Linked DNA regions of Homo sapiens. The protein of the gene in region 1 purifies or fractionates together with the protein of each later gene. This does not show direct contact. Each region holds a gene or a part of one and is shown on either strand. Other genes may lie near its edges. The genes, in order: ABCB1, FBXO15, POPDC2, UBA7 and PLEKHM2.

Region 1 (6,034 bases):
GGGCCATGATGAAGAGTTAGGATTGTATTCTAAGGGCACAGGGGAGTGGTTGAGGGTGTTAAAAAGAGGAATGACTATCCACGTTATGTTTTCAGATTGTTTGTCTGTAATGGGTCTCATGAATGGATGCGAGAAGTCAAAGGGTGGAAGCAGGGAGACCAGTGGGGAGGCCGGCAGAATGGTCCAGGCCAGAGCATCTCCCTGATCTGGAGCAGAGGCAGGAGAGGGGTGACAGGTACCTAGATTTGGGATATAACTTGAAAGTAGAATTGATGACTATTCTTAGACCAGACATAATCAGTTTTCTTTCCTGTTCTTCTCCTTCCCTTCTCTGCTTCTACATAAAGTAATTGAGGTCTTAATCTGGCTTTCTCTTCAAATTAGCAGTGCAGGAGGGAAGCTGGCTCTCTTTGAATGGAAATTTAACCAGAAGTTAAAATAAATTCCATTCAATCGTATAGAATAGTTTTGTTCCTTTTCACTTAAAAATATTTTTCTCTCTTTTATGTGCCTTGAAAATATATTTATCTATTAATATTTATTTCTGTTGGCTTAACCAAAATTGTTCCTTATTCTTAAAGTAGTTACTTGCATTATTGATAAATATTTTCACAATATTTAAGAAGAGTCATATTTCCTACATACCAATGGTTTTGTTATATAACTTTAGTCTCTTTTAGTCATTCCTACTTTCATGACCATTTCTGTACTAAAGCCTTTGATGAATGGATGATTTTAATATCTAGTTTTATGTATGGCATTTGTATGGAAAAACAACAAAGAGCTTATGGAAAAGGAGTATTGTTTATATCTCATTTCCCTTTGCCCCCTTCTTTCCTTTATTTCTCCTTTCTGATGTCTAAATGATTTTCTTCCTTGTGCTTCTGTGCAAATGTTTCCTCTGGCTGCATAGGACAACATCAGACTGGTTTCTACGTTAGTCTTGGTAAGCGAGAACTGAAATAAAGGAGATAACAGAGTATAGTACATATGTATTAAATGTCCTTAAATATATTCTTATGTAAGTTATGCCCAGTGGTAGCTTTTACCTCAGATCAACTCATAAAGTGAGAGATATGTATGTGTCTGTGTGTTGTGTGTGTGTGCATATGTGTATATAAATAATTGAAACGTTTCTCAAAAATAATTTTTCTGTTCAGATGATAACTGGCAAGTTGAGGATTTACATTTTGGGGGGTAGAAACTAATGATGTGTTGCTATGTTGTCACTATGAAGTTCTGTTTAAATTTCATCTTTAGTGAACACGGTAGTGATGTAAATTTCACTTGGCATGCTTTTGTAACTCTGTAATGTACCTAGTTAAAGTAGTCATGAAAGCAAGAAACAATGCATGTTCATATCTGGACAGTGCTTGAGCTCTGCTGTACATGCTAATGGAACAAGTTCTCCAAAGGAAATTAATATAATGCTATATAATATTTATATAGTTGTGAATTTATGGATCAAAGACCTTAAAGTATGACTTTTATATGGAAGTAAGTTCATGAATTTCAACAATTATTAGCTCCTCCTCTATCCAAGGCAATGCTCTAGGTTCTGCAGGGAGTTGCGATTAAGAAAATACAGACAGATTTAAGGCAATCTGTCCTGTTTCTCTAATCCTTTTACCTTGGTTCTACATTTGCAAAATTCCTTATTTTTCTTTAACTCTGGGCTCCATTAGCTTATCTCCATAGCTATCCTCTTAAACAGAGTAGTCTTCTCTGTTCCTTTCAAATGAAGGTCGAGTTATAGACATCATCTCCTTTAACTTTACCGTCAAAAATTGACCACCCTCTGAGGGTTTAAAAAATATTTGAATTATCAGTTGGGAATAACCTGTAAGTCATTAGAACTGCAGAAATAAAATCTGTCAGTGACTCCAACATTGTTTTTCGATTTTTTTTCATTTGCTCATTTTTGCCCCTTTTGTACAATTTCCTATATTTGCTCTAAGAAGTATTAATGGGTCCTCACCAGGTTTGGTTAATGTAGGGTAGGCCTTTGTGCTATGAATGGGTTCAGGGCTATAGATATGCTAATAATTTAATTTTTCTCAGCCCTTGAGTTAGTCAGAAGCCGTGGATGGCCCAAGCCACCAGGTCAGATCCTGTTAGTTCAGCAGCTGGCAGCTATGGCATGACAAGTGTTGGGAGCATTAATAGAGGGAAGGACACATAGTCAATATGTAGAAAGGAGAAGGAAGAGAGGGAATGCTGATGAATAATGATGTGCTTTTATAAACCTGTAAGCCAAATAATTTTTGTAGGTCAGTGATTTTTAAAATAAATGTCTACGGAAGTAAGATAAATTGTACAGCTTATTTAAATGTAAAAAGTATTACATGGCAATTCAGAACTCTCAAAATGCTCTCACACATGTAACCTCTCAGTTGGTCATTCCGACAGTCCTAGAGGAAGGCAGGACAGAGAGCAAACTGTCTCCAAACTTCCTTAATGTTCAGAGATTTAAATGACTGTCCCTTTTTTTTTTTTTTAGTACTTTCTAACATTATCTCTCCATTTTATTAATTAAAGAGGCATGCAGATTTTGAAGGAAAGACACAGGTTTTTTCCATGGCTTTTACTTTGTCTTGTGTATGAAACAATGTAAGTTTTAGAAGTTTGCTAAATATTGCTTCACTTATTTGCTATTGCTAAAGCCAGAGAAGGAAATTTTAGAAGACTCCCCCACAAATAAGTTAATCTCTATAAATGTCAGTTTCTTCTTCTGCAAAAAGGGAGTAAAACAGTACTACTATATAGGGTCAATGTATGAGCAGCAGGACAAAATGCATGTATATCACAGGACTGAACACATCCTAGCCACTCTGTAACTATCATGCTATATCGACATGTTTTCATAAAATGTATATGTGATCATTTTTGTTCTTTTTCTCAGGTACAACAAAAATTTAGAAGAAGCTAAAAGAATTGGGATAAAGAAAGCTATTACAGCCAATATTTCTATAGGTGCTGCTTTCCTGCTGATCTATGCATCTTATGCTCTGGCCTTCTGGTATGGGACCACCTTGGTCCTCTCAGGGGAATATTCTATTGGACAAGTACTCACTGTAAGTGGTTTACATTGAGAAATGAACCATTATTATAAAATGCCAATGAAATCCAGTAATGTTGGCTTGACTTTAGAAGAATATATTTTGAACAACTGTTGAATACTACAGACATATGCACTACTAGGTTAAAAAGTGGAAGGCCAGGCACGGTGGCTCACACCTGTAATCCCAGCACTTTGGGAGGCCGAGGCAGGCAGATCACGAGGTCAGGAGATCGAGACCATCCTGGCTAACATGGTGAAACCCCGTCTCTACAAAAAATACAAAAAATTAGCCGGGCGTGGTGGCGGGCGCCTGTAGTCCCAGCTACTCAGGAGGCTGAGGCAAGAGAATGGCGTTAACCCGGGAGGCGGAGCTTGCAGTGACCTGAGATTGCGCCACTGCACCGCAGCCTGGGTGACACAGCAAGACTGTCTCAAAAAAAAAAAAAAAAAAAAAAAGTGGAAAAAAATTAGATGCATCCGACAACCAGTTTTTTCTTTTATTTGCTTGTTTGTTTTTGCAGATATCTTGCACAATTTATCCTGTAGCCTAAATAATATTAACGTTAGCAATCTCAATAGCATGAACTTTTATTTGTTGAGATTATTTGTGCCAAACTTGTTGCTAAACACTTCACTTTTATTTTCTGATTTACTATTCACAAAAATGGCAAAATACACATTTTGACTTCTTTTCAAATTATTTCGAATGGCAGCTAATCCACCTCACAAATTATGGAAGTATAAATTGTTCCTCTTCCTAAAAGATTGTTTGGAAGTTTTCTGCATTATAGACCTTTGTGCAAGCACAGAAGTCTTGCCATTTAATGTTATCCTCTTTTATTTTAAAGACAATGAAATAATTTGCAAACCAAACTCAATTCATATCTGGATCTAATAAAATACACTGTTAGAAGAGTCACTTAGTTCCTTTTTCGTAGGCCAAGCAGAAATAGATTGAGGCAATGAGAGATGATATTTTGTAGAATCCCTTAAAACAATTCCCTTTTTCAGGAGCCAGATTTGTAATATGGATTCAATAATCACTTCTTTTTCTTTTTTTTTCAAATTTGCCTTATCCAACATTGCTCAGTGGGGAATGGCTTTTCCCATGAAGTTTTTTTTTTTTAGTATAGTGATGCTGTGGGTGATCCTTGGTTGTCATAACAGATGTTTTCTGTTTAACTGTGATTGAGATAAGCAGTTTAAATCCAGTGTTCACTGGGCATGAATATACTTCACACACTGGAGGCATCCAAAATAGGGAGTGTGGGGTTTGATATCGGACCAACTTGATTCAAATGGCAGCTTTGTCACTTATTAGCTGTATGATTTAGGGCAGCCAGCTAAACTTTTCAAGCCTCTGCTACCTCTTCTGCCAAATGATATGACAGGAATGAACCCTAACTTTCAGCGTGTTTTGAGGACTAACTGAGATAATGAATATAGAATCACTTAGCAAAGTTCCTTCTGTGTAAATTATTGAGCAATATAATTCCATGTGATTTAGAAAAAATGAATAATGACATTAATTCTCATCAACCCCAAAGAGAAACACAGTTAAGTCTTTACCAATAAGAAACTGATTTGCACAAAACAAAAAAACAAAAGGCCTAAAGAGAACACGGCCTTGTGGCAAAAAAGACAACCTGATAAAGGATCAGTGTCTTAGGTGTGTGTGCTTTATAATTAACAAAAAATGTTCATATACACTGTTTTATCATGATACAACATCTCTATGATTGCTGGGTAGGGAGAACAGATAGAATCTTGCCTGTTTTTGCCAATGAAGAAATTGAAGCCAAAGATTCTAAGAGAATGGCCTAACAACATATAACTAGTTATTACTAATTTAGGATTCAGAACTGGGTCTTCTGACTCCTCTGCTAGCATTTATTTCCACTTTACCTTACTGATGATCTAAATAAAAAAAAAACTAGACATTGAAGAAATATAAAAATATCCTATTATAATATTCTAGCCCTGTGAAATTTAAATCATTGTTTATTGAGCAAGTAAGACTAATTCTGCATTCTAAATTGAAAAGTATTTATATTTCCAAAATATTTTTAGTATGGGCAACATAGTGAGATCTCATCTCTATAATTTTTTTTTTTAATTAGCCAGATATGGTGGCACTTGTCTGTAGTCCCAGCTACTTCGGAGACTGAGGTGAGAGGGTTGTCTGAACCCAGAGGTTGAAGTTGCAGTGAGCCAAGATTGCACCACTGCAGTCCAGGCTGGGCAACAAAGCAAGACCTTGTCTTAAAATTTTTTTAAAAAAATTTTATGCTATTTTTAATTGACAAATCATAATTGCATTACACTTACGGAATACAATGTGATGTTTATGTATACACACACATACACACAAAATGTGGAGTGATCAGAGCAAGCTAATTAACATATCTATCTCCTCACTTGACACCTTTTGAGGTGACACATTTGAAATTTACTCTTGGCTGGGTGTGGTGGCCCATGCCTGTGATCCCAGCACTTTTGCAGGCTGAGGCAGGAGGATTGCTTGAGGCCAGGAGACCAGGCTGGGACACGTAGCGAGACCCTGTCTCTAGAAAAAATAAAAAAAATTAGTCAGGTGTGATGGTGCATGCTTGTAGTCCTAGCTACTTGGGAGACTGAGGCAGGAGGATTGCTTGAGCCCAGGAGGTAGAGGTTATGACGAGCTATGATTGCACCACTGCACTCCATCCTGGGTGACAGAATGAGAACCTGTCTCTTAAAAAGGAAAAAAAATGAAAAAAGGAATTAAATGTACTGTTAGTTACAAACTTTTAAAATATTTTTAACACCTAGTATTTATATGTTGCCTCGCCATTTTAAATTTTAATTACCTATGTTAGAAAAAGACAGAAGAAGTATGAAAAAAAATTGCTGTCACTATCTCAGTAGCCTGATGGTTTTTCTTCACATTCCTCAGGTATTCTTTTCTGTATTAATTGGGGCTTTTAGTGTTGG
Region 2 (6,034 bases), on another chromosome or scaffold:
CTCAGCATTCAGTTCGAATACCAGTCCCTTGAGGAAGTTTCCCTGATACTCTCATCTCAACTGACCATGTACCCAATGGGCAGAAACACCAGTGTGTTGAATGCAGAACTTGATACAGCTGCAGTGCTGAAACTGACTCGGCCCGGCCAGTGCAGGTAGAGATGGATGCTAAGCACCAAGAGGGCAGGACTTAGGCCAGCTTGGTTCAGCATCGTGCCCCTGGCCACCTGCATATGCACACAGTCACTGAAGCTCAACCACTATGTGCTGAATGAATGAATGAGTGTGATAAAATGAGAGGGAGGTGGTAAGAGTAGTGATGGAGGTGCTGGTTGTTATTAAACACTAAGGTAGGACAGCAGGAGCCCTAATGCATCAGGGGCAGCAAACACCAGGAAAGAAGAGATGGGTGAAGAAGCAGCCAGCATGAAACACACTAATCCCTGATGGGAGAGTGCACGCCAGAGCCTAAGGCCCCTCACATCAGATGAGCTACACAGTGAGACCACCCAGGAACCCCTCAGACACCTGACCTTGCTCCCTGATGCCTTTCCCAGGCAATCGGCTGCAGTGGTCCTGGAACAGCAGCGACCAGCCCCACACAGCCTGTTCCACAGCACCCACTGCTTCCTGCATGACAGGGACCACCACACACAGAGCCTGGGCTGCGAGGAGGACACCAGAGTGGGGAGCAGGTGGGGAATAAGAAAAAACACCCTACACTGCAGCCTCACTGAGGCTGAGAATGGGGGAGTTGAAGCCAATACTGAGGGCCAGCAGATGGCTCTGTCTTTGGCAGGCAGCCGGAGCCCTCCTGGAATGGGCATTACCACTGTGGCCGTTTTAGAGAGAAGGCTCTGAGGTCTAAGCACCTCTGAGATAACACAGCAGGTGGGACTGCATGGTGCATCCATCTTCCACACCCCACCACCCTGCACGACCTTAGCCACTGGGCTAGCAGTCACTTGACTGTGTTACTTACAACCTCACCAAACCCACCAGCATAGAGATGGTGGTTAGATCCTATGGGAGGAAGGAGGTGGAGCCCTGGGTCCCATCACCTGCGAGAAGGTTGAGGAGGAGAAACCCTGGCAGAAGTCAGGAAGGAGCGGCCGGTGGGGCACAAGGGCTCCTTGGTGAGGACGCTGCTCACAGCCCTAAGCCGTCGGTGGGTGTCTCAGTCTTTCTGCTCTCCCACCTCCTCTGCTGCCAGATCAAGAGCTGGGAGCTGACTCTCCTCTGAAGCCCTCCTAGTTCTCAAAGTCCAGCATTCTCCAATTCCCTCCTAACCTAAAACATGGCCTAGCACACGATAGGCACATCAAACTCTTTAACAACATCCACAGATACACCAAAATCCAAATTCTTTCCTGAGGGTTTCAAGGCCCCCCCCCGACCTGCCCCAGCAGCCTTTCCAATGCCCCCCAGTCACTGTCCCTCCTGTCCCCGGGTGCTAGCCCACCCCAGGCAGGACAGCCAGCTAGGAAGAGGCCCGCCTCAGCACCAGCCGCAGCGGCACAGTGGGTCTCGCACCCCTCCCCGGGCCAGCTGCCCCTCACCTCTAGAAGCTCGCTCCTTATTTCCCATCCTGTCCGAAGCATCTCTTTCTCCACTGGGTTCCTTCTCCAGAATAAATCACTCCCAACCTTCTGGGGGGGGATGCATGTCAGAACCTCTCATGAGCCTTCCTCCCACTGGCCCCTTTCCTCTTTCTCCTCACAGAACTTGTTTTCAATCATCCCTCTCCTAAATCAGTCCCTCTCACCCTGAACGTCCAGGAGGCACACATCTGAGCAGTCGGCAGACCTCACCCTCCTTGCAGGAGGAAGTCTCTCCTCACCTGCGCTCCCATGGACCAGTGAACTACGCCAGGCTCAAAACTCAGTGTCTGGGGAGAGTGCAGCACTCGCACGTGTGGGACTGTTCTGTTCTTCCTGCGATTTTCGGTTGTATCAGCACCAGCAGCCTTAATCACCCATGCAGCTGCAGTGCTTGTCAAGTGAAGTGGCCAGGATGCCTTTCTCATGGGCCACGGCCACCCACAACATGCTGACCCACGATGTACCCACAGCAGGCTCTACTGAACTCAGCTGTTCTTACATAAAGCAGAACCACAGAACTACACTGAAATATCTAGTCTAAATAAAAATTGATGCCAATCTCCATATAGATTTAGAAGTAACATTAAAATAACATCAAAAATGCCAAGGAGTGAAAGAAAAACATAAAAGAAACATACGGGAAAAGCCTCACCAAAAGAAAATCCATCCATCTGAAATTCTGATAGGCGCTGGGAGGAGACAGAGCAGGAGAGTATTTCACTTTGATTACTTGACTTATGCTGAAGACTGCAGCAAGGTTACCTTGAGAGGGTAGCCTAGCTGTTTCAACATGACTTTGTAAAATAGCATGGTAACCACTTACAGAGCAAGCGTCCTGCATGGATTCAGTACTAACACGTGGCCACTGAAAGCATCTTTAAATGAAAAGTTCTGGAGATTAGACAGTAGTGATGGTTATACAACAATGAGAAGGTATGTAAGCCACTGAAATATAGAAGTCAAGTGGTGAAGGTGGTAAATTTTATGTTTATTTTACCACAATTAAAATACAGCTCATTCATAATATTATTGTAATAATTATCAGTATCTTTTGAGTTTTTTAAAAAAAGAATAAAAAACTGACCTACTTAGAATGTGATTTTTAAAGAATTTTAAAGTTTAATAATTTACCACATAAACTTATGATCTGTTGAGTTTTTGCTCTAGGAACTCAAACTAAAGATACTTTCCACCTGAATTACCTCCACACCAGTAAGTGTTGGAGGTCACTCAACTCTGAGGTTGGAGGAAGACGGAGATTCTCATGGGAACAGCAGGTCCCAAGGACATCAGATGTCCTTTCACGACTGCACATCACTTCAACCAACACGACACAACTAGGCAGCATCCTCCGTCATTATCATTAATATTTTCTCACTTCTTTGTCCTTCCACCAGCATCGTATTTGGGTGACGTACTTTCTCAGTAGCCTATGCTCTGACAGGCATCGTAAACTATTTAGTAGAAGCTCCTCACCAGAGGTTGTGTCTACAATTTCCAGAAGGAGCCGGGTTTTTATTTTACATTTTTTTAAAAGTCATATGTACCTAAGAAACTTTCTAAGCTTATGTCCATGCTTTAAAAAAAAAGTTTTTAACTCCTTCCAAGCAATTTCTTAAAATAAATGTTATCATTTCACTATTCTTAGGGTGATCAGATTCCTGGAGAGAAATACCTGAGCTGCACAGCAAATACAAGACATATGACATCACTGATCTGACTTTTTATTCTTTTGGGAATTCTGAGGACGGCTTAGTCTTAATACTGAATCCAAGAGCATAAAAGGCAAACAGAAAATAAACCACATCTACCCTCCAGGCCCAAGGGAGAAGGTACAAGCTTTTGAGCTATCTGCTATCTTTTCCCAAAGCCCATCTGAGAGAAGGAATTTATGGGGAAAACTGTCCAGGGACATGCAATCCATTCTCTACTTTAAAAACTCAAAATCCTGCTTTCAGATCAAGCTGTTTTTCTAAACACCTGTGCACCTCAGTCACATTGGTTTAGCAACCTACAGAATCACTGCTTGGAGCTCATGTAAAGGTCCAATTTTGAAGCCGTATCTTCAGCTTCTCTGAGAACTTCTATGAGAAATCTGTGAGTGCATCTGCTGCTAAGATGCTATTCAGGGTGGGTCCATTATGTAGCTTAGTCTGCCCTACATAAAGTCCCATTGGAAATTTTGTTTTTAATGATCAGAACTGGGATAAAGCTTTCTTTGTATAATTACTACATTTCCCTTTTTTCTCCCAATGAGAACTAAATGACTGCTCTCATCTTTCTCTGGACTACCAGAAAACACAGAACAAATTATTTTTAAAAATTATGCTGACCCTTTAAAAGACAGTCACATTCACATTCTGCCTTTCTTGATCCTCAAGGTCTATTTTGACGTGAATATTTTATCTTAGTACCTACTTTTATTATAGGCTTTATTGAAATCTGAAGAAAAAGAAAGAAGGTAGGTCTGTGCTCTTAAAGGCATGAAACAACATGGTGTGTGATAAACATCATTTTTACCAAAACTTAAACATTTGCTATGAATAAATAGGATTTGTAAAATATCTCATTGCATCAAATATCAAGTGGCTCAAGGGACAGTGCTTCATGATAACACCACTCTTGGTCCCAGTCGTCATCATTAATAGTTCTAACAAGGTGCGCATGCATAGCGCCGTATAAAGCCATGTTACAGGAGGCCCCCGCAGTCACAGGAGATTGATCCCACTGGTCCCTGGGACAATGAAAATCTTGTTCATCCCATAAAATAAAGTTGGAGAGTGACAAGAACCAGGAGCAGCCATGGGCACAAGGACAGAAGAAAGCAAAACTGTGAGAACATCTTTCTCCTCTTCCTCCTCCTCCCTCCTTCCCTGCTACTTCCCAACCACTAAGTCAACTCTCCCACCCATGTGGCTAATCTTTATTTAACAGTTCAAGGAAATCCCTATATCCTGGACTAAGAATTTATAACTGCAATAAGTTTTAAATTGGTACATGGATGATCAAGATGTTTTGAGTAGATGCTGCCTGCGTGGTCCAACCTTCAGTTCCACTCTCTTTCCACAAAACAGAGGGGCTTTGAGAGAGTAGGGGACTGTGATCAACAGTGTTCTGAAATGCTGCTGCAGACTACCTGCCCCTCCAACTCCACCATACTCAGTGACAAATGAAAGGTACTCAATAAGCATCTCATGAGTGAATCCACTGGCTGTCAATGGCTAACAGAATGTGCACCAACCTTCAGAAACCAGAACAATAAATCCAGAACTATAAAAGAAACATCATACATATATGACAATATAATTTATATATATAAACAGACTTTTTATTATATAGAAATCAAGTTACTTGAAGAAAAGAAAACGGTTCTGTTTTTACCTTTATACAGCCATCAAAAATATCAGTTTTCCACGAGAGGCCAACTTTTCCAATAAGAGGTAGGTGTTCTCTGTTATTTTTTAAATGTATAACAATGAGCTTCACATGTCCATTTTCAATATTTCCTGAAAAGATATAAGATTGTTTCAATCACTGTCTTCCAGTGCAAGATGACAAACCAAGCACGTTCAGTCGGCGACTTTATAAGGATACCTCACCCTGGTAAGCCCTGGCCTCAGCGATGAGGGCAACATGGGCACAGCAATCCCAGCCTCTGGCTTGAGGCCAGAGTGATGCATCTGTGTCCCAGAGGCAGAAACATTAACAAGTGCCCAGAAAGGTGATGTCAAAGGTGAGTCAGGGGAAGCTGGCTGAGGCGAGCCTGGATAGCCACCTGTCACTGATGGAAAGGTGGTCGCTGAAGGAGGAAAGGGTTCTTCTGATGTGGGTAAGCCAACAGTGTTGGAAACCGATATCTAGAATTACACAGCTGAAGAAAGCAGGTGCAGAAATGGCAAAGAAACAAGGGGCTGGAGAGCAGGCGAACATGAAGAGGAGTGGAAGAAACTCACATGAAATAAACCAACACCTCTGCACATGCTTGTAACTGAGTGAGAGTCCGTGCACATGCCCACCTAGCTGGAGGCCAAACCCTGGCCCTCTGCTGCCAGCTCCAAGCCAGCTACTGGCAGCCTGGCCACACGGAGGAGCCCTCGCACCCACACAGCACACTAGCCCTGCTGCCACAGGCCTCTTGTGGCAGGGAGAGCCGCAGCACCACTCGGTCTCACACAGACACAAGCTTCCTGGTTCTGTCTGAACGCACCCTGAGAAGCGACCATCAGTTGCTTCTCACACAAACCAACCGACAGCAACACAACTCATACCCGAGAATTCTCCAGAGATGGAAGTCTGAACAAAGGGAAGATGCAAGTCACAGGGCAAAGCAAACAGAAAAATCATGGAAAAGAGCAAATGTTCTCCAGCCCTGGCCTGGTTATTTCATGAGACAAAATAAAACCAAAGCCAAGCTGCCTTGGGAGCCAAAGCTC
Region 3 (6,034 bases), on another chromosome or scaffold:
AAGGGATTTTAAAAACTCATTCGTTATTAACTTGATTGCATTTTAGAAAGTGGGCTGGTTGATACGTTGAGCAGGAAGGTAGATTGCTGTTTTTTTGCAAGTTTATTCTAATAGCTGAGGCCACAGCTGGGGCTTAAGGGGCTTTTATTTGTGGCATGCATTTTAAAAGAAAAAGAATGTGGCAGGGTTCTAATTCTGATTGCTTGTCTTTCCTGATACAGAGCCCGTCCTGGAAAGCAGTTGTTATTTAGCCTAGACTGGGCAGGCATCTCTGTTAAAACTGCATATTTTAAAGAGGATTGTGATTATGAGCTAATAGCTCGGGGAGGAAAATGTCCTCATCTTGCTTTCCTCTCACCCAGTGGAGAATGTGTTTGTTGATCACACAGACAGAGGACTAGATACTGCTATGATTAAATGTTACTATGATCAGATAGGTATATGGCAGCCTGGCTTTCCCCAGTCACCCACACCTGTGGGAGGTAGGATGTGCATAAATCCTGGAGGGCCTAACAGTGCGTGCAGGATTTCCCTCACAGAATTTCCCTCCCAGAGAGTCTACAAGAAAGGCTGTGCCCAGTGGTTCTGGGAAATTGCTCTCATGTTTCCCTGGCTGCCCTCATAATACTGTGATGTTTTTCTCTGTAACTCCACCCAACCATGATGTAGGCCTGAATTTCCTGAGGAAAATCCCATTGTTCCCAATTTGGAAGGCGCCTCCCATGGTTCTTCAGAAAGCACCAATAAATTACCTGAGAAACTAGCCCAGTGAGGAAGGCCTCCAGAGTACATGAAATGAATGAGTGAATGTTTGTCTATTTTGAAAAACAGGTTATATAAATGATGAAAGAGGCCATAGAGATGACTGATGAAAGGTTAGAGATTTAGTTTTGTAGATATGGAATTTACAATCTCCTGTGTTACCAGCATCCTTAGAACCATAGTTCAGCTCATTCTGAGGTAATTCCAAGGATCAATCTAACACCCCAGATCACTTTGTTGAGTTCCCCGAAGTGTGCATTGACAACTCTGATCACTCCTTTCCCTCTGTGCAGCTGTTCGCCTTCCTACTCGTTCATCCTGCATCCACGCATGCTCCTTATGTCCTATGGATCCCTCTTGGTCCAACTTGCCCATCCACCTATACACTCTCTCTTCGACTCACAGCAGCTCTCTGTTTTCTCATGTTGTTCTTCCTGGTTTTCTTCTCTTTTCTTGGTTCTATTTTTCTCTTCTTTCTTCTCCAATTTCTTCTCAGTCCTTGATTGCCTCAGTTTGATGTTCTGTTCTTTTTTCCTTTTCTTTCTTGAGACAGGGTCTCACTCTGTCACTCAGGATGGAGTGCAGTGGCATGATGTCGGCTCACTGCAATCTCTACCTCCAAAAGCTCAAGCGATCCTCCCATCCCAGCCTCCCAAGTAACAGGGATTACAGGCACATGTCGCTGTGCCTGGATAATGTTTAATTTTTAAATTTTTTTGTAGAGACAAACTCTCCCCATGTTGCCCAGGTTGTTCTCGAACTCCTGGGCTCAAATAATCCTCCTGCCTTGGTCTCCCGAAGTGTTAGGATTACAGGCATGAGCCACCATGCCTGGCCAGTTTGCTGCTCTTAAGTGTCCATTTTCTATGTCTTCTCAGTTCATTTCTCCCTCTTCACTTGTCTCTTGTTTTCTTCCATTTTATTGTTCATATATTTATCTCTCCTATTACCTCCTTTTTTCTTTTTCCCACCTTTTTTGCCTTGCTGTATCTATTCTTCCTCCTAAACACCCTGTACCCCCATCTTATTAGTTTTTAATCCTAACTCTTCCAAAGATCAGTACTTTTCCCTCTGCCTATAAAGAAAACCATTCAAGTGAAGGTGTAAAATCCCCAGCTTTAGGAATGTTTTCCAAACATCAGGAGGCAGGCAGCATGGTAAATGAGAAAGAGGCCAGGACTGGGAGTCCAAAGTCCTGGCTTCTATGTCTGGCTTTGCTACTAATCAAATATGTGACTTTTTGCAAACCATACCTCACTAAACCTTACTTTCTTCATTTGAGCGTGTTGGACCAGCTGTCCCCAGGAACCCCCTTGGATTGATCTGAGAAGGCAAGGATAAGTTTTTCAAAGGAAGAAAAGAGGAGTAGTCAGTCCGCAGTACAGTAGACACAAGCCCCAGGACATCTGAGTGTCTTTCAGCAAGAACTCTCTGTGATATTTCACTACAATTTCTCTGGCACCTTGGGACTCTCCTCAGCCCTTGTGGTGGTGGGTCTTGTTTAACTAGCAGTTCCCTCCATTCTATGCCTGTGAAGAATCTATCACCTACCATGTGATTACAGTGCAGATTTTTTTTTCCTTTTCCTTTTCTTTTTCTTTCTTTTTTTTTTTTTTTTTGTTTGAGACGGAGTCTCGCTTTGTCACCCAGGCTGCAGCGCAGTGGCGCGATCTCGGCTCACTGCAAGCTCCGCCTCCCGGGTTCACCGCCATTCTCCTGCCTCAGCCTCCCGAGTAGCTGGGACTATAGGCGCCCGCCACCGTGCCTGGCTAATTTTTTCTATTTTTAGTAGAGACAGGGTTTCACCGTGTTAGCCAGGATGGTCTCCATCTCCTGACGTGGTGATCCGCCCGCCTCGGGCTCCCAAAGTGCTGGGATTACGGGCGTGAGCCACTGCGCCCGGCCTACAGTGCGGATATTTTATGAGAGAGGAGATCACAACTCAGTCCCCAAGCCCTCAACCCTTAATACATACTATCGTATGAAATGCCTCTTTCCAAATTCAGCCTTTTCTAAAACTCAAGATGAGAAAACTGCTGATGAGGCTCACTTTCTAAAATACCGGAATTTGCAATATAGGGAGAATAGTTTTTCATGTTTCTTTGTTTAAGCAATAGAGAGAAAGGAAACTTATGTCGTTTACTTTTCAGGCCATAGAGGTTTTCAGAACAACTTGAAAACATGATCAAATTAGCCAAACTTCTGATAGTTTTCAATGTAGTCTGTGATCATGGGATAATTTAGCCTCAGTTCTTTTTCTGAAATTGTGTTTTGAATGTTTGATTTGACTTATTTACCATCAAACTTGCTATAAGGTTATTACTCTAATGAATAAGCATATTCCCTTAATTGGGAGCAATTTACTATTATTTCTTTCATAAAGTAGGGCACCATTCACCATCTATTTCCTGGCTCTTTAGTTATCAAAATGTTAAGCTCATTGCTATTCATCCCGGCACAGCACTTATATGAGAGGCATGAAGCTGGCTGAATTCTGCATCATTAGGAATGACACAGCCTCATCACATTGACACCAGTGCTTGTCTCTCACACCAATCCAAATTAAGACCAACTGAAAATAGTCAGAGTTTCCTCTGGAGCTCCTTTTTGAAGAGACATATGTTTTTTAGTCTGGTGGTACCCAAAATTGAACAAAAAATGGGTGCTGCTTCTCTTAATAGGCAAAACTATGCTGCAGGATAATGTATTCATGCAGGGTCTTCCAGCCAGACCCCAAATCATCCCTCCCTTCACTAGAATTTTTCTGTTTAATTCGATGGCCACTCTCCACAGGGATCCATTCTGTGTCTTATTACAGGAGATGCTCAATGAATGAGGGACTTATCTTCTAGAAATGCAGCTCCGAGGTAGTCTGTTGAGTGAAATAATGAATCCATTATCACAAAATAAATTGAAAGCTGTCTGACATTTGGACAATTTTTATTTTGTTTCACATTGTTCTGAAAACTATACTGTTTCTTTTCTCCCTATTATTTAAATAAGCAAATGATGAACAGATTACAAAATTGAGGACACTCGAGGTAAGGGAAGGAGCCCCTCGACAGGAGGATCAGGACATAGTACCAAGGGCAAGAGAAACGATTCAATAAACACTATTTACTATATATTTTAGGCATGGTTCTAGGTAATCACATGATAAGTAGTTGAAAGAACTGAAAATGTTTTATCTGCAAGAAAAGGGCAAGTGTAATATCTTCAAATTTTAGAAAGAATGTAAATTAGAATTTGACTTAATTTGGTGTAGTTCTTGTGGGCAGAAATTGAATTGAATAGGCTGAAAGTTATAAGAAGGATTTTAGCTCAGTATTGATACTGGATTGCTCATGGGTGGTGAGAGTTACTCATCACTGGAAGAGTTCAAGCAGGGGCCATAAGAAATCTCAGGGATTTTATAAGGTGATTCATGCTCTGGGAAAAGGATGCCTTGGATTATTGTGTCAGGGTAACTTCTAACTCTAGGATTCTGTGTTTCTAAGATCTGGACTCTAGTCTTGCCACTCACCTGCCATCAAGAACATGTTCCTCATCTGCAGGACAGGACCAAGATGGCTCTGTCTACCTTACCGGGTTGCTGTGAGGCGTGATTGTGATAAAATACATAAAGGCAGTTTTTAAGCTCTGAAGCACTAGTTAAATGTGTAGCGTATTTTAAGATTCTGTTGTATGTACAATTGTTTAGCAGTCTCTCTCTCTTTCTTTCTCTTTCTTTTATCAGAGATAGATGATTTTCCCTCTTATTTCCACCAGTTTGGCTTTTCAGGGAAGGTGGCAGCTGGCAGAATCCCCTGACAACAAAAGGTACAGCAAAAAGTGGAGGCCTAAAGAAAACATGTGCTAGCTCTTTAGCCCCTGAATAGCTAAGTCACATGTCAGCCTGCTCTCCTTCATCTGTTTGGGAGGAGGCAGATTAGAGTCACACTGTCATCATGCTCTTCCCCTCAGAAGCAGCTGTAAGGTTTTTGGTAGCTGTCAGTGCTAGCAAACAGTGCTTTTCTCACAGAACTACTGGAAAGAGTCCTGGCTCGGAAAACTTGCTCTTGAAAGTGGCACGGCCAGAGCAGGGGTCTCTAGAGGGTCGTGCCACCTCTACCTGCCACAGGTTCCATTGTCGGTCAGGTAAGTTAGAGGCAGCAGTTCCCCACCTGCCCTCTGGATAACAGCAGCCTGGGGCTGCTCCTGAGTCATGTTTCCACTTCTGTCTTACAGGCCTCATTTTCCTACCCATCTTTCTGTAAAAATGAAAGTCAGGAGTCTTATGAAACTTACCATTATTCAATACAGGCTTTTGGTTTTTTTCTTTAAATTAGATAGGGTTAGGTAAGAAGTAGAGTTCTATAGAACGTTCATAGGAAGCAACAAAAGTTGATCTCTTGGTCTCTACAATAGGAGAGGATTGGGCTAGATACCTTCAAAGCTGACTTGCCCTAATATTCTAGTATGAAATGATTCGAAGGTACACCTGCCCCTATCATGTCAGGCAGTGAGTACAGTTAAAACATTGGGAATTGGTAAAGGAAAGAAAAAAACTGAAAAGAACCCTTTGAAGTTAGACAAACTGTCCAGAGACATAGTGCTAAAATCCTCCCTCTTTTTCTTTCCACAGCTTCTAGAATTCCTCTCCAGAGCTACTCTCAAGTTATATCCAGGGGACAGGCCCCTTTGGCTCCAACCCACACGCCTGAACTTTAAGGATCATTGGACTATCTTCTCTGTGGCCAGCGCAGCTCTCTTCTGTGTTCACAGAATGGCCACTGATAGGCATGCCTCTTTTCCCACCCACTGGAAGGCTCACAGGCAAGGTGAGAGAGGACACAGAAGGTGCCAACACTGTCGCTACAGTAAGGACCTGAAGTGACTTTGAGAAATTCACCCTCACAAACCTTCCTTCAGGAGCAGGCATTGGTAGTGCAGAGGCACAGATTCCGTCCTTTACCAGCTGCAGAATCTTGGGCAAGTTACATAGCCTCTGTGAGCCTCATCGGTAAACAGTGGGGGTTATGAAACCCACCTCACAGGGTTGTTGTGAGGATCCAATGAGTTGATTTAGGTAAGCACCTAGCACATGCCGTGGCACCAAGTAAGCACTCAATAAATCACTCAACTCCTTTCCCTATGTTGTTTCTTTGCATTGTCTGAAAGGATCAATGGAGTCAAAGATCCAGCTTTTCACTGGTGGTTATTTTTTATTTTTCAATTAAGATTCAAATTTATGGAAGTGGAAATTTAAAAACCTCGTTTTCCCTTAGGCTGT
Region 4 (5,656 bases), on another chromosome or scaffold:
GTCCAAAATCAGGACTAGGGGAGAAGCATGAGGAATGCCCTCCAGGTCCTGATTCAGAAAACTCAGTATAAGAAGGAGATGCAGGCCAGTAGCCATCACTGACCCCGTCTCTGTCCCCTAGAGAGGCAGCCGCTATGATGGGCAAATTGCAGTGTTTGGGGCTGGTTTTCAGGAGAAACTGAGACGCCAGCACTACCTCCTGGTGAGCTGTGGGGTGAGACTGGGGGTGCCTTTGGGAGAGCCAGCCCAGCCCCTCTGGCTAAGGCTGTTCCTGCCAACAGGTGGGCGCTGGTGCCATTGGTTGTGAGCTGCTCAAAGTCTTTGCCCTAGTGGGACTGGGGGCCGGGAACAGCGGGGGCTTGACTGTTGTTGACATGGACCACATAGAGCGCTCCAATCTCAGCCGTCAGTTCCTCTTCAGGTCCCAGGACGTTGGTGTGAGTGCTGACCCCTCTCCACACTCCTGCATCCCAGACCGTCCTCCCATACAGCTTCCCACCCAACATCTTCCTGCCTTCTTCCCAGAGACCCAAGGCAGAGGTGGCTGCAGCAGCTGCCCGGGGCCTGAACCCAGACTTACAGGTGATCCCGCTCACCTACCCACTGGATCCCACCACAGAGCACATCTATGGGGATAACTTTTTCTCCCGTGTGGATGGTGTGGCTGCTGCCCTGGACAGTTTCCAGGCCCGTGAGTGCTTGACTTCGGAGGTCAGTCCCTTGCCCACAGCTGTGCCAGTCCCACTTCTGACCCACTGCTCCCTTGCCAGGGCGCTATGTGGCTGCTCGTTGCACCCACTATCTGAAGCCACTGCTGGAGGCAGGCACATCGGGCACCTGGGGCAGTGCTACAGTATTCATGCCACATGTGACTGAGGCCTACAGAGCCCCTGCCTCAGCTGCAGCTTCTGAGGATGCCCCCTACCCTGTCTGTACCGTGCGGTACTTCCCTAGCACAGCCGAGCACACCCTGCAGGTAGGAAGCACCCTGGAGACTCCCACCCCACCCAGCTCAGCCCTCAGCTGCAGACCTGTTCTCCACCTGATACCTCATTCTTCCTCCCTCCTCCACAGTGGGCCCGGCATGAGTTTGAAGAACTCTTCCGACTGTCTGCAGAGACCATCAACCACCACCAACAGTAAGGCCACCAACAGAGGCAGATGGGAGTCCAGGGCTCCAAGCATGAGTCTGCAGGACTCAGTCTCACACTTCCTCCTCTCTCTGCAGGGCACACACTTCCCTGGCAGACATGGATGAGCCACAGACACTCACCTTACTGAAGCCAGTGCTTGGGGTCCTGAGAGTGCGTCCACAGAACTGGCAAGACTGTGTGGCGTGGGCTCTTGGCCACTGGAAACTCTGCTTTCATTATGGCATCAAACAGCTGCTGAGGCACTTCCCACCTAATAAAGTGTGTGGCTAGGGGTTGGGACGCTGGGGGCTCAGGGGGACCAGACTGAGCCCAGCAGCTTCTACTTACCTACCTAGGTGCTTGAGGATGGAACTCCCTTCTGGTCAGGTCCCAAACAGTGTCCCCAGCCCTTGGAGTTTGACACCAACCAAGTGAGTGGGATTCTGTAGGGAGCTCCAAGATAGAGATGTGGCCCCTCAGAGCAGAGGTAGGCATTTCTGCATTCTGCAGAGATGCACAGATGCCCAGAGAGAGCCATGCTTGTGCATATATGGGTGTCTACATGTGAGGCAAAGGCAGGCACTCAAACAGATCCACAAATGGACAGTGACCCCCACCCCATGCACCCATGCCTCTGTTCCTGCTCTTGGTCTGGCTGCAGGACACACACCTCCTCTACGTACTGGCAGCTGCCAACCTGTATGCCCAGATGCATGGGCTGCCTGGCTCACAGGACTGGACTGCACTCAGGGAGCTGCTGAAGCTGCTGCCACAGCCTGACCCCCAACAGATGGCCCCCATCTTTGCTAGTAATCTAGAGCTGGCTTCGGCTTCTGCTGAGTTTGGTGAGGCTCCTGGCCCTGGCCCCTCATGCTGTCTTTCAAAGGCCTGAACCTGTCCTGTCCTCAGCCTGTGCTGCAGAAGGAAGATAGGGCCTAGGGGATCTACAGCCAATTTGCTACCTCTCAGGCCTCCTAACCTCACTCCTCCATAGTTTCAGGCTTATCCTCTGGTCCCTCAGTAGGTCTTCTCCCTGCTGCCTACCCCACATCCCAGTTCTTGTGGCAGATTCTTGGCAAAATAAATAAGTAAATAAATAAAGTCCATTGGTTCCTGGGGAGTGTCTAGCTATGGCCTGCAGGTGAGGACAGGGTCACAGAGGTCATGAGCACACATGGGTGAAGACTGGGGCTTCTAGAGGGGAGATTGTAGCATTAATTAAGGGGGCTTCTTGATTTGATCAGGGAATAGTAAGTGACAGGCTTGGCAAAGACCAAGAATAGGCACAGGGCTCCAAGAAGAGTGCAGGAGACAGGGGCTAAGGACTGCCTCAACATCCCCTCCCCTGACAGGCCCTGAGCAGCAGAAGGAACTGAACAAAGCCCTGGAAGTCTGGAGTGTGGGCCCTCCCCTGAAGCCTCTGATGTTTGAGAAGGTGGGTGCCCAAGTGGCAGTGAGGAGTGGGGCTGGGGAGTTTGTGGAGAAAGGTCAGGAGCTAATAAGGTAGTTTTGGAGCCCCTTGGCCTGAATTCTCCCAGCAAGACCCTGGAAGCAGCTCACATTCCCTGAACCTCAGCCTGTCTGATCAAGAGGAGATGTGGGGCAACCCCCCGACAGAACTGTGTGGAGACTTGTGCAGTGACACGCAGTGGGCCACGGTGAGGGGCACAGCTGCAGTGTTAACACTACTTTGACTTGGGCCTTACAGGATGATGACAGCAACTTCCATGTGGACTTTGTGGTAGCGGCAGCTAGCCTGAGATGTCAGAACTACGGGATTCCACCGGTCAACCGTGCCCAGGTAACCCCACCCCTTGAGGCTTGGGCCTGGAGGTGGAGGGCAAACCCTGGCCCTACGCCTTGGGCCCAGACCAAATCTCTTGTCCTTGGCAGAGCAAGCGAATTGTGGGCCAGATTATCCCAGCCATTGCCACCACTACAGCAGCTGTGGCAGGCCTGTTGGGCCTGGAGCTGTATAAGGTGGTGAGTGGGCCACGGCCTCGTAGTGCCTTTCGCCACAGCTACCTACATCTGGCTGAAAACTACCTCATCCGCTATATGCCTTTTGCCCCAGCCATCCAGACGGTGAGCCCATGATACCCCACCCTTAGCCCTACTAGGCCTGGGTTTCCCCTGCACCTGCCCATACAGGCCCCAATCTAGCTGCCGGCTCTCACTGAAACTCAGACTGTGCAGAAGTCCTGAAGACTCCCTCCAGCCCTCTTCCTGCTATGAAGCCAGGCTGGGACCTGTCAGACACAGGAAGCAGCCGTCAGCCATCCCCACCCCCAATCCTCCAAAGCCCAGGATCTGGGGGAGCTGCAGCTTTAACTCATTAGTGGAGCCAGACATCCCCCACAGTCCCCTCCTTCCTTGGAGTACCCCTGAGGGGTAGGTAGTGGGGAGGGGACCAGGGCATCAGCCCCAGAAAGAGTCTAGCTTCCCCCTGCATGGTACGGGGGCCCTGGCCTACCTCCTACAAGCTGAGTTAAAAGGTAATAGGCTTGCCACTAGAGGTGTGGGGTCTGCAGCCCTGAGTGTATTTGTGTCACAGTTGTGAGTGCAACTGGGGTCTGGGCATCCCCGGAGTGTGGGTATGGAAGGAGCAAGTTTGCACATCTGTGCATCAGATGGGAGTGCAGGGCTCCCATCTTCCTGTGTCCTCAATGTGGGCATGCATGGAGATGCATGTGGGCACACATGTGTGTGTTCCTGGGCTTGTGGGCATTTGTGTTCCTGTGACTGCAGCGCTGTGAATGCCTCCAGCCTTGTGCCCAGGCTCTGCAGTTGGCATTTCCTTGGGGCAAGGATGAGGGTAGAAGGAATGCCCTCATGAGGGGAGAGGGCAGAGGTCATGGGCCAGCACTGGGTTTCTGCTGAGCAGCCTGGGGTCCCTCTGGACTAGCACACAGAGCCCCTTTGTGAGGCACCCTGCCTCTAACCAGCATACAGGCTGCCTTTGTCCACAGAGTGAAGCAGGTGAAGGAGAAGCCCCCATCTCACCTCTAGCCTAGTCTCAGCTTGACCCCAGTGTGTTTTCTCAGGGGCTGATAAGCACCCCCTGTCCTGGTCTCTAGATACCTGCCAGCCATCCTTCTGTCCTTAGCTCTAGGTCCCAGAACCCCAAGACTCTTGGAAGGAAGGAAGGGACAGGAGGAGGAAGCCTCTATGCATTGTATCCCTGCTGGGGTCTCTGGGACAGTGGGGCCCTGGTGGTCACTGTGCCCTTTGCCCCTGTGTCCCAATGAGTAGCCCAAGGCACTGGCAGTACATACAAGATTGGGGGACAGGATGTGCCCCCCAGCTCCCAGCCTTGTCTTTGAGGAACAAGCAGCTTTATCAGAGGCTGCAGGGGCCCTGCTCTGGGTTTCCTCAGGAAGCACCACCCCCTCATCCCCCACTCTCACAACTGGCCCATGTGATGGATCGTCTGTTTCCCTGTGCGGGCCCCATAGCCCCATTTCCTGTGCTGGCCCCGGCCTGGACGGGGAGGGGGCTGAGACTCTGGGCCCAGATCCCACCTCCCCCCCACCCCCCACCCCCTGGCTCCTGTTTCCTGCTAGTCCAGCTCTTCCCCTAGGAAAGGCTGCTGGTAACTGGGATGGGGGTTGGGGGGAGGTAAGAAGTCTCTGACTCCTCCTCTACCTCATCCCAGTTCCATCACCTGAAGTGGACCTCTTGGGACCGTCTGAAGGTACCAGCTGGGCAGCCTGAGAGGACCCTGGAGTCGCTGCTGGCTCATCTTCAGGTGTGCCCTGTTGCTACCCCAACCCCCAGGCTCAGCCCAGCCCGGCCCAGCTGGTGTCTGACCTTTCTCCTCTAGGAGCAGCACGGGTTGAGGGTGAGGATCCTGCTGCACGGCTCAGCCCTGCTCTATGCGGCCGGATGGTCACCTGAAAAGCAGGCCCAGCACCTGCCCCTCAGGTGAGCCCACTTGGGGCTTTAGACAGGCCCCACCAGTCCCTGGAGGCTGGGGCTAGGGACCACACTGCCTTTTGTCTTCCCAGCCCCATTCTGGGCCCCTCACACCTTCCCAAGCATTCTTTCCCCAAATGGAGCCAGCAAACAGGCTGGAGGTGGGGTGAGGGCCGAGAGCCTGAGGAGGAGTCTTCAGGAGCTGCCTATTTGGCCAGCCCCATGGGCTCCCCACATGCTGCACAGCCCCCCTTTCACAGCCCACTCCCAAGGGACCCATAGCTTCCTGCCTCCTGCTTGCCTCATCAGCTGCTCCTAAAATAGTTTCAGATGTTTCCTGTCTTGAGCAGCTCCTGCTCCTGGCTTGGGCTCCTGACGGCCTGCCAGCACCCTCTCTAGTCCATGCCAGGCTGCCTTCTGCTTGCCATGGCTCACCTCTCCAATCTCCCCTAAACCCACCCCTACCAGGGTGACAGAACTGGTTCAGCAGCTGACAGGCCAGGCACCTGCTCCTGGGCAGCGGGTGTTGGTGCTAGAGCTGAGCTGTGAGGGTGACGACGAGGACACTGCCTTCCCACCTCTGCACTATGAGCTGTGACAAGGCAGCC
Region 5 (6,034 bases), on another chromosome or scaffold:
CCTCCAGGGAAGGGGATCCCAGCCCCAATTTAGCCCTGGGGCACCCTAGAATTGCCTCAGCATTGAGACCTTGACCTTCCCCTTTCTTTATTTCTGCTGTACCACGGGTTATATGTCCCAGGAAGGGAGGTCCCTCTCAAACTTGCTGTTAGCAAGACCTGCATTGCTGACCGTGCAAGCTGAAGAAGGCGGCACAGTCTCCTTAGGTTGGGCCCATGGGCCACCTTAGAGGAGTTGGAGGGGTGGGCCTTGCCGGAAGAGCCAGGGCAAGGATGGATCCATGGATGGAGGTGTCCCCTCAGCAATTTGGAGATTGTGCAACTGCAGCTGCCAGGGCAGTGTCTCCTTGCCCTGCTAGGGTATGGAGGGAAGGCACGTAAGAGGTAGAAAACAAAGCTAGGCACAGGCAGCCAGGCTTCTCTCTGCCAGAACCAGCTTCTGGATGTGGAAAGGGGTCACCCTGACAGGTCTTTCCAGCTGGTTGGAGGCTCCTGGGCCAGCGCCTGAGCTGAGAGGCAGTCAGGGCCCTAGTAAGTTTCCCCAAGGTTGTTGGATACAATGTAGAAAGTTGAAGTTTTCCTCTCCTATTTTCTCCCCATGTCTCCCACCCCATTTCCCCTCCCCTCCCTCCAGTCATCCTTCCACTGCCTGTGTTTCTAATCTTCAGTTTTGTCCCTCGTTTTTGTAGATTATGATTTTGGAGATGTGTTTCCAGCAGTGCCGTCTGTACCCAGCACAGACTGGGAAGGTGGGCCAGAGTCCGCTGTTACCCTCTTTTCCTGTTTTGCAATGTTTCCATGCCAAGCTTGCTGCATGTATCAAATCAGCTCCTTATTATTTATAATAATATCCATAATCATAATAAAGCCAAGTTTGGTGTTCTAATAGATGGAATTCTGCAGTGGGAAAACTCAACCTCTAGCCATAGGCAAATCCCTTCTCCCAGTGCAGGGCTCCTGCCTTTGCTCAGTGGCCTTTCGGAGTCACTAAGTGGCTGCATTTCGGGGGATACAGGGTCACCCTTCCTGATTCCAGTGCCAGCTGATGCTCTCGGGGTGTGTAGGGCCTGACCCAGTGAACCAAGACTTGTTCTGGAAAACCATGCCTTTAAACATGCGGGTTGTAAGCTCCTGCGGGTCAGATGAGCATCGAAGAGAAAGAGCTTGATTCTTTCAGTCTGTTCCTAATGGCTTCCTCTTGGGTGTTTTGGAGTGGTTGAGGTCCAAGTCAGGAAACTGCCCAGGTACAGCTGAAACTTCCTACAGACAGAATCTCTTTGAAGCTTTAAAGCAGATTAAAAGGAAATCTGCCAGCCCTCCCACCCTGTCTGCTGGGCAGTAGCAGTGCCTGGGCATTTTTCTGCCTGAAATTCCACTTCATAAATTCACAAAGCTATTCCCAGGTTGCCACGATTACTCAAAGCAAAGGCTATGTTGCCAATAAGGTGAATGTTTCCCCCTTAAATCTGAGGCCATAGCAGATCCCTGTTATTTTACTTTATGTTATTTTATTTTACTTTTTGAGACGGAGTCTCGCTCTGTTGCTCAGGCTGGAGTGCAGTGGTGTGATCTTGGCTTACTGTAACCTCCACCTCCCGGGTTCAAGCAATTCTCCTGCCTCAGCCTCCCAAGTAGCTGGGATTACAGGTGTGTGCCACCACGCCCGGCTAATTTTTGTATTTTTAGTAGAGACAGGGTTTCACCATGTTGGCCAGGCTGGTCTCAAACTCCTGACCTCAGGTGATCCACCCCACCTCATCCTCTCAAAGTGTGGGATTACAGGCATGAACCACTGCACCTGGTCCAAATCCCTGTTATTAAAGAGCCTCCTACCCTCTGGGCCACTTCCAGCCTGGAACAGGGGAGGTGAGGGAACCTGGCCTCTGAACAGGGGAGGTGAGAACTGCCACACCCTGAGGATGAGGGGCACGTGGCTCTCCCCGCATTATTAGAGACGTGATTGCTGAGTAATGGGTGACAGGTGATCCGTTCCCAGATAATGTGAGTATGAAATACCTTAACTCTGTGAGAAATAAGATGTGGCATTGGGAAAAATAAACTATGACACTTGGCCAAGAGTAGCATTGAAGGGTCCCCTGTTTGAGTTAAATTAGCTTGGATTCCAGAATTCCATCATAACATCATGTACCCTCTTAGCCCCTCTTCTTGCAGCACACATGCTGGATATTGTTTTTTTTTCCCTCCGATTCTAACAACTAACCCCCCTCCTGACACGCCTGCTGCAGTCACTTGACAAGCAGGGCCTGACCTTCCTCTACAGCCTTTCAGAGCTCCCTGCGGCCTGAGAACTAACAGCCCAGTTGCACTGCTTGCCTCAGGGCAGGGTGAGATTTCTGGAGTTCCTGGAGCAGGATTCCTGAGCTCACTCTGGCAGCTCACCCGGGGAGGCTCTGTCTTCTCCTTGGACCTGGAGGAAGGCAGGACTTGGGGCAGCTCCAAACTCTGAGCCTGGGGTGGCCTTCCCCTGGTCTTTGGCTTATTTACAGAGCTGGTGGGCATGCGGGCCTTGACACCCACCACATCTCATGATCTGCCCACTCACCTCTCAGGGCTCCTCTTGGGTGCAACTGCGTGTGCTGAGGAGAATCACAGGAGCCGGAGCAAGAACACATGGGCTTGGCAGGAGCCTGCTTTGGGACCGAGAGACGCGGTTTTCTGTATCTTAGAACTTAGGCTCTGAGATCCCCGGAAATCTGGAAAAAGTCCCCGATGTTGCTGGTCTTTTCTGGCAGAGCTACTCATTGCCTTTAGCCTCCTCTTTTGTCCTTATATTAAAAGACAGCAGACTTAAAAAAAAAAAAAAAGGGCCAGGCTCACACCTGTAATCCCAGCACTTTGAGAGGCTGAGGCTGGAGGATCGCCTGAGCCCAGGAGTTTGAGACCAACCTGGGCAACACAGGGGGACCCCGTCTCTACTAAAAATATAAAAATTAGCCAGGCTTGGTGGTGCACGCCTATAGTCCCAGCTACTCTGTGGGCTGAGGCAGGGCAGGAGGATCACTTGAACCCAGGAGGTCGAGGCTACAGTGAGCTGTGATTGCGCCACTGCGCTCCAGTCCGAGCGACACAGCGAGACCCTGTCTCAAAAAAAAAAAAAAAAAAAAAAAAAGGACGGTGTGCTGCATCAGCAGACAGCTGCCCTGTGGCTTCCAAGGGCACTAAGTTGACAGCTGGTTGGGCCCCCAGTGGGGCTGTGGGGTGCATGTTTGCCTCTTTTCTTCCGGGCAGACAGCGGCCAGCAAGATGAGCATTGGCCGGCAAATAGAGCACGACCAGCCATGGCCCTTGCCATTGACCCTCACCCAGGCAGTTTCACCAGCTGGGCCTCAGCTCTCTGCTTGGGTGGCTCCCATCTGCCACTGGCCGTATGGGCTGTGTGCTTCACCTGCCCGTGCTCCCTCTCCTGCCCTGTTCCAGTAACCAGGGGCAGATGGCTGGGTGGGGCGGGATGTCCAAGCCAGCTCCCCTCTCGGGGGCCGTGTCAGGGTATGAGTCAGAAAGGACCAGTCAGTGAGCTGACACTTGAATGAAATGGAGTTCTCGGCCGGGCACGGTGGCTCACGCCTGTAATCCCAGCATTTTGGGAGGCCGAGGCGGGCAGATCACGAGGTCAGGAGATCGAGACCATCCTGGCCAACATGGTGAAACCCCAGCTCTACTAAAAATACAAAAATTAGCTGGGCATGGTGGCGCATGCCTGTAATCCTAGCTACTCGGGAGGCTAAGGCAGGAGAATCACTTGAACCCGGGAGTTGGAGGTTGTAGTGAGCCGGGCTCGCGCCACTGCGCTTCAGCCTGGCGACAGAGAGAGACTCCGTCTCAAAAAAAAAAAAAAAGAAAGAAATGGAGTTCTCAGCACCACCCTTGCAGGGGCACCTGGTCCTGCCCCCGAGGAGTGTGTAGGGTCAGGGGTGCTGGGGAGAAGCAGCCTGGGGGGCGGCCTCTCGGACCCCTGTCTTTGCCCCTTCGCACCTTGCTCTCATTGCCCTGCTCTGTCATCTTGTCTCTACTCTGTGCTCTGGGCATTTCCCTCTGCCCCATGGTTCCCACCCCTTGGGCTCCCATCCTGTCTCCTAGCCTCTGCCCCCACTCTGCACCCCTCACTTTCTCTGCTGTCTTCCTCCATTCTTCTCCCTTTGTGTTCCTTTTACCTCTGCAAGGGACCCTTCAGAGGACTTTGGGCACCTCTCAGCCCTACAAGTGGGGTATGGGGCTAACGGGGCTGCTGGGTACCCCTGTAGCGTCCTGGCAGGAAGGCTCTGAGGGTAACCTAAGAGGCGTGCAGCCTGGCTCCTCTCTAGGGCTCCCAGCCACCCATGGAGGCCTCGAAGTCACCATTCCTATGGGACTTAAGCCTGGAGCTTGAGCCTGGAGGCTGCTTCACCGCGGGGGCCCTTAACACAAACTCAGCCAAATTGTTGTGAGCTCCGGAGGCCCCAGGGGTGGTGGAGATGGTGTTCCTTCCAAGTTGCTCCTAAAGTACAAAACCCCATGTCCTGTTAGGTTGTGGCTTCTACTCGAAATGGGGCCACCCCTGTCAGGTTTCCCTGGGAGGAACTGGCCAGCCTGCCTCCCTCCTGGGCTAACGCATGCTCTGGGGGTCGGGGACCCCGGGGGGTGCCTGACAGGGTGTCTCCTGCTTCCTTGTCCTCCCAGATGGAGACCTCACAGACACGGTCAGTGGTCCCCGCTCCACAGCCTCCGACCTGACCAGCAGCAAGGCCTCCACCAGGAGCCCCACCCAGCGCCAGAACCCCTTCAACGAGGAGCCGGCAGAGACTGTGTCCTCCTCTGACACCACCCCCGTGCACACCACCTCTCAGGAGAAGGAGGAGGCCCAGGCCCTGGACCCGCCGGATGCCTGCACGGAGCTCGAGGTCATCAGGTCAGCAGGGAGGGGCCCAGAAAGGAGCTGAGGTCCTGGGGTCCAACCTGTCCACTCCCAGCATCAGCTGTTCATCCAGGGCAGACCGGGACACCCCCTGAGGGCAGTTGCATGCCTTCCTGGAAACCCTTCCCACCTCTAGGAGGTTCTTTGAGCAAGAGGAAGTGGAGGCCTGTCCTAGTCAGCTCGGCTGCTGGAACAAAGCACCGCAGACAGGCGGCTTCCACAACAGACATTCTTTCTCACAGCTCTGGAGCCTACAGTCCGAGGTCAGGGTGCCGGTGTGGCCAGCCTCTGATGAGGGATTCACAGATGTCCCTCTTCTCGCTGTGTTGTGGCGGGGAGTGGAGAGAGAGCTCTCTAGGGTCCCTTTTATGAGGGTGCTGATCCCATTCCTGAGGATCCCACCCTCAGGACCTCATCACCCCCCACCCCCTGATACCATCACATTGGGAGTTAGGATTTCAACACAGGAATCTGGAGGGGACACACACATTCACTCCATTGTAGGGCTCAAGCCCTTGGAAGCAGGTGGCACAGGCAGCGACCGTGGCTGGTGTCTGGGGCCATGTCCAGGCTGCCAGGGCGTTTGCTGGGTCTGCCTAAGATCAGAAAGCACCTTCAGGCTGTACTTCTTCCCAAGGGAGTTCTTGGAAGTTAAGATACAATTTCTGAGATTCATTGAAAGAAAAGTATCTTTGTCATATGGGCAGGACATGGAAAGGAAGGACATGGTGGGTGGCCAGCAGGGACTGTCAACCAGAGCCTCCCCGGCTCCCTGACCTCCCCGACCCCCTCTTAAAACTTCACACTGACTAAGAGGAGAAGCCCTGTGTGCGTGTCAGACTGCCCAGGCTTGCTGGCCTGAGGCGGGGGATTGCTCCCCAGTGACTGGAGCCAGGAGGCCACCCCATGGGCTGGTTCCAGTCCACAGCAGCATCATGCTCAGACCTGGGGTCCCTTAGCTAAGCCCGCTCCAGCCAACCTGGAACCAGAGTGGGACCCGGAGCGTGAGCCCAGAAAGCGCTGAGTGCTTTCTGGGTGATTCCTCCATGATGATGCCTGAGGGAAGTGAGGTCAGCTCGGGATCCACATCCGAAGGGGGGCTGAGTGGAGGGGGCATTGCCTG

The links.
Region 2: the proteins of ABCB1 (region 1) and FBXO15 purify together in Homo sapiens (affinity purification with western blotting; one study listed by BioGRID). This does not show direct contact.
Region 3: the proteins of ABCB1 (region 1) and POPDC2 purify together in Homo sapiens (co-immunoprecipitation; one large-scale study listed by IntAct). This does not show direct contact.
Region 4: the proteins of ABCB1 (region 1) and UBA7 purify together in Homo sapiens (affinity purification with western blotting, with the first as the bait; one study listed by BioGRID). This does not show direct contact.
Region 5: the proteins of ABCB1 (region 1) and PLEKHM2 fractionate together in Homo sapiens (co-fractionation; one large-scale study listed by BioGRID). This does not show direct contact.

The regions. Positions count from the first base shown.
Region 1 is NC_000007.14:87,550,801-87,556,834, reverse strand, and holds part of ABCB1 (ATP-dependent translocase ABCB1), read left to right. Parts: intron 1-2,902; coding exon 2,903-3,074; intron 3,075-5,996; coding exon 5,997-6,034. UniProt on the Homo sapiens protein: Translocates drugs and phospholipids across the membrane. Catalyzes the flop of phospholipids from the cytoplasmic to the exoplasmic leaflet of the apical membrane.
Region 2 is NC_000018.10:74,076,945-74,082,978, forward strand, and holds part of FBXO15 (F-box only protein 15), read right to left. Parts: intron 5,108-6,034; coding exon 4,983-5,107; intron 1-4,982. UniProt on the Homo sapiens protein: Substrate-recognition component of the SCF (SKP1-CUL1-F-box protein)-type E3 ubiquitin ligase complex.
Region 3 is NC_000003.12:119,641,914-119,647,947, reverse strand, and holds the end of POPDC2 (popeye domain-containing protein 2), read left to right. Parts: intron 1-4,498; coding exon of another isoform or gene 4,499-4,572; exon of another isoform or gene 4,573-4,581; intron 4,582-5,386; coding exon of another isoform or gene 5,387-5,472; 3' UTR 5,473-5,892; downstream 5,893-6,034. UniProt on the Homo sapiens protein: Important for the maintenance of cardiac function.
Region 4 is NC_000003.12:49,805,298-49,810,953, reverse strand, and holds part of UBA7 (ubiquitin-like modifier-activating enzyme 7), read left to right. Parts: intron 1-121; coding exon 122-202; intron 203-281; coding exon 282-437; intron 438-525; coding exon 526-691; intron 692-770; coding exon 771-976; intron 977-1,074; coding exon 1,075-1,139; intron 1,140-1,228; coding exon 1,229-1,412; intron 1,413-1,489; coding exon 1,490-1,564; intron 1,565-1,794; coding exon 1,795-1,978; intron 1,979-2,485; coding exon 2,486-2,568; intron 2,569-2,841; coding exon 2,842-2,934; intron 2,935-3,026; coding exon 3,027-3,218; intron 3,219-4,708; exon of another isoform or gene 4,709-4,788; coding exon 4,789-4,881; intron 4,882-4,956; coding exon 4,957-5,057; intron 5,058-5,516; coding exon 5,517-5,646; 3' UTR 5,647-5,656. UniProt on the Homo sapiens protein: E1-activating enzyme that catalyzes the covalent conjugation of the ubiquitin-like protein product of ISG15 to additional interferon stimulated proteins (ISGs) as well as other cellular proteins such as P53 in a process termed protein ISGylation.
Region 5 is NC_000001.11:15,720,641-15,726,674, forward strand, and holds part of PLEKHM2 (pleckstrin homology domain-containing family M member 2), read left to right. Parts: intron 1-688; coding exon 689-748; intron 749-4,676; coding exon 4,677-4,905; intron 4,906-6,034. UniProt on the Homo sapiens protein: Plays a role in lysosomes movement and localization at the cell periphery acting as an effector of ARL8B.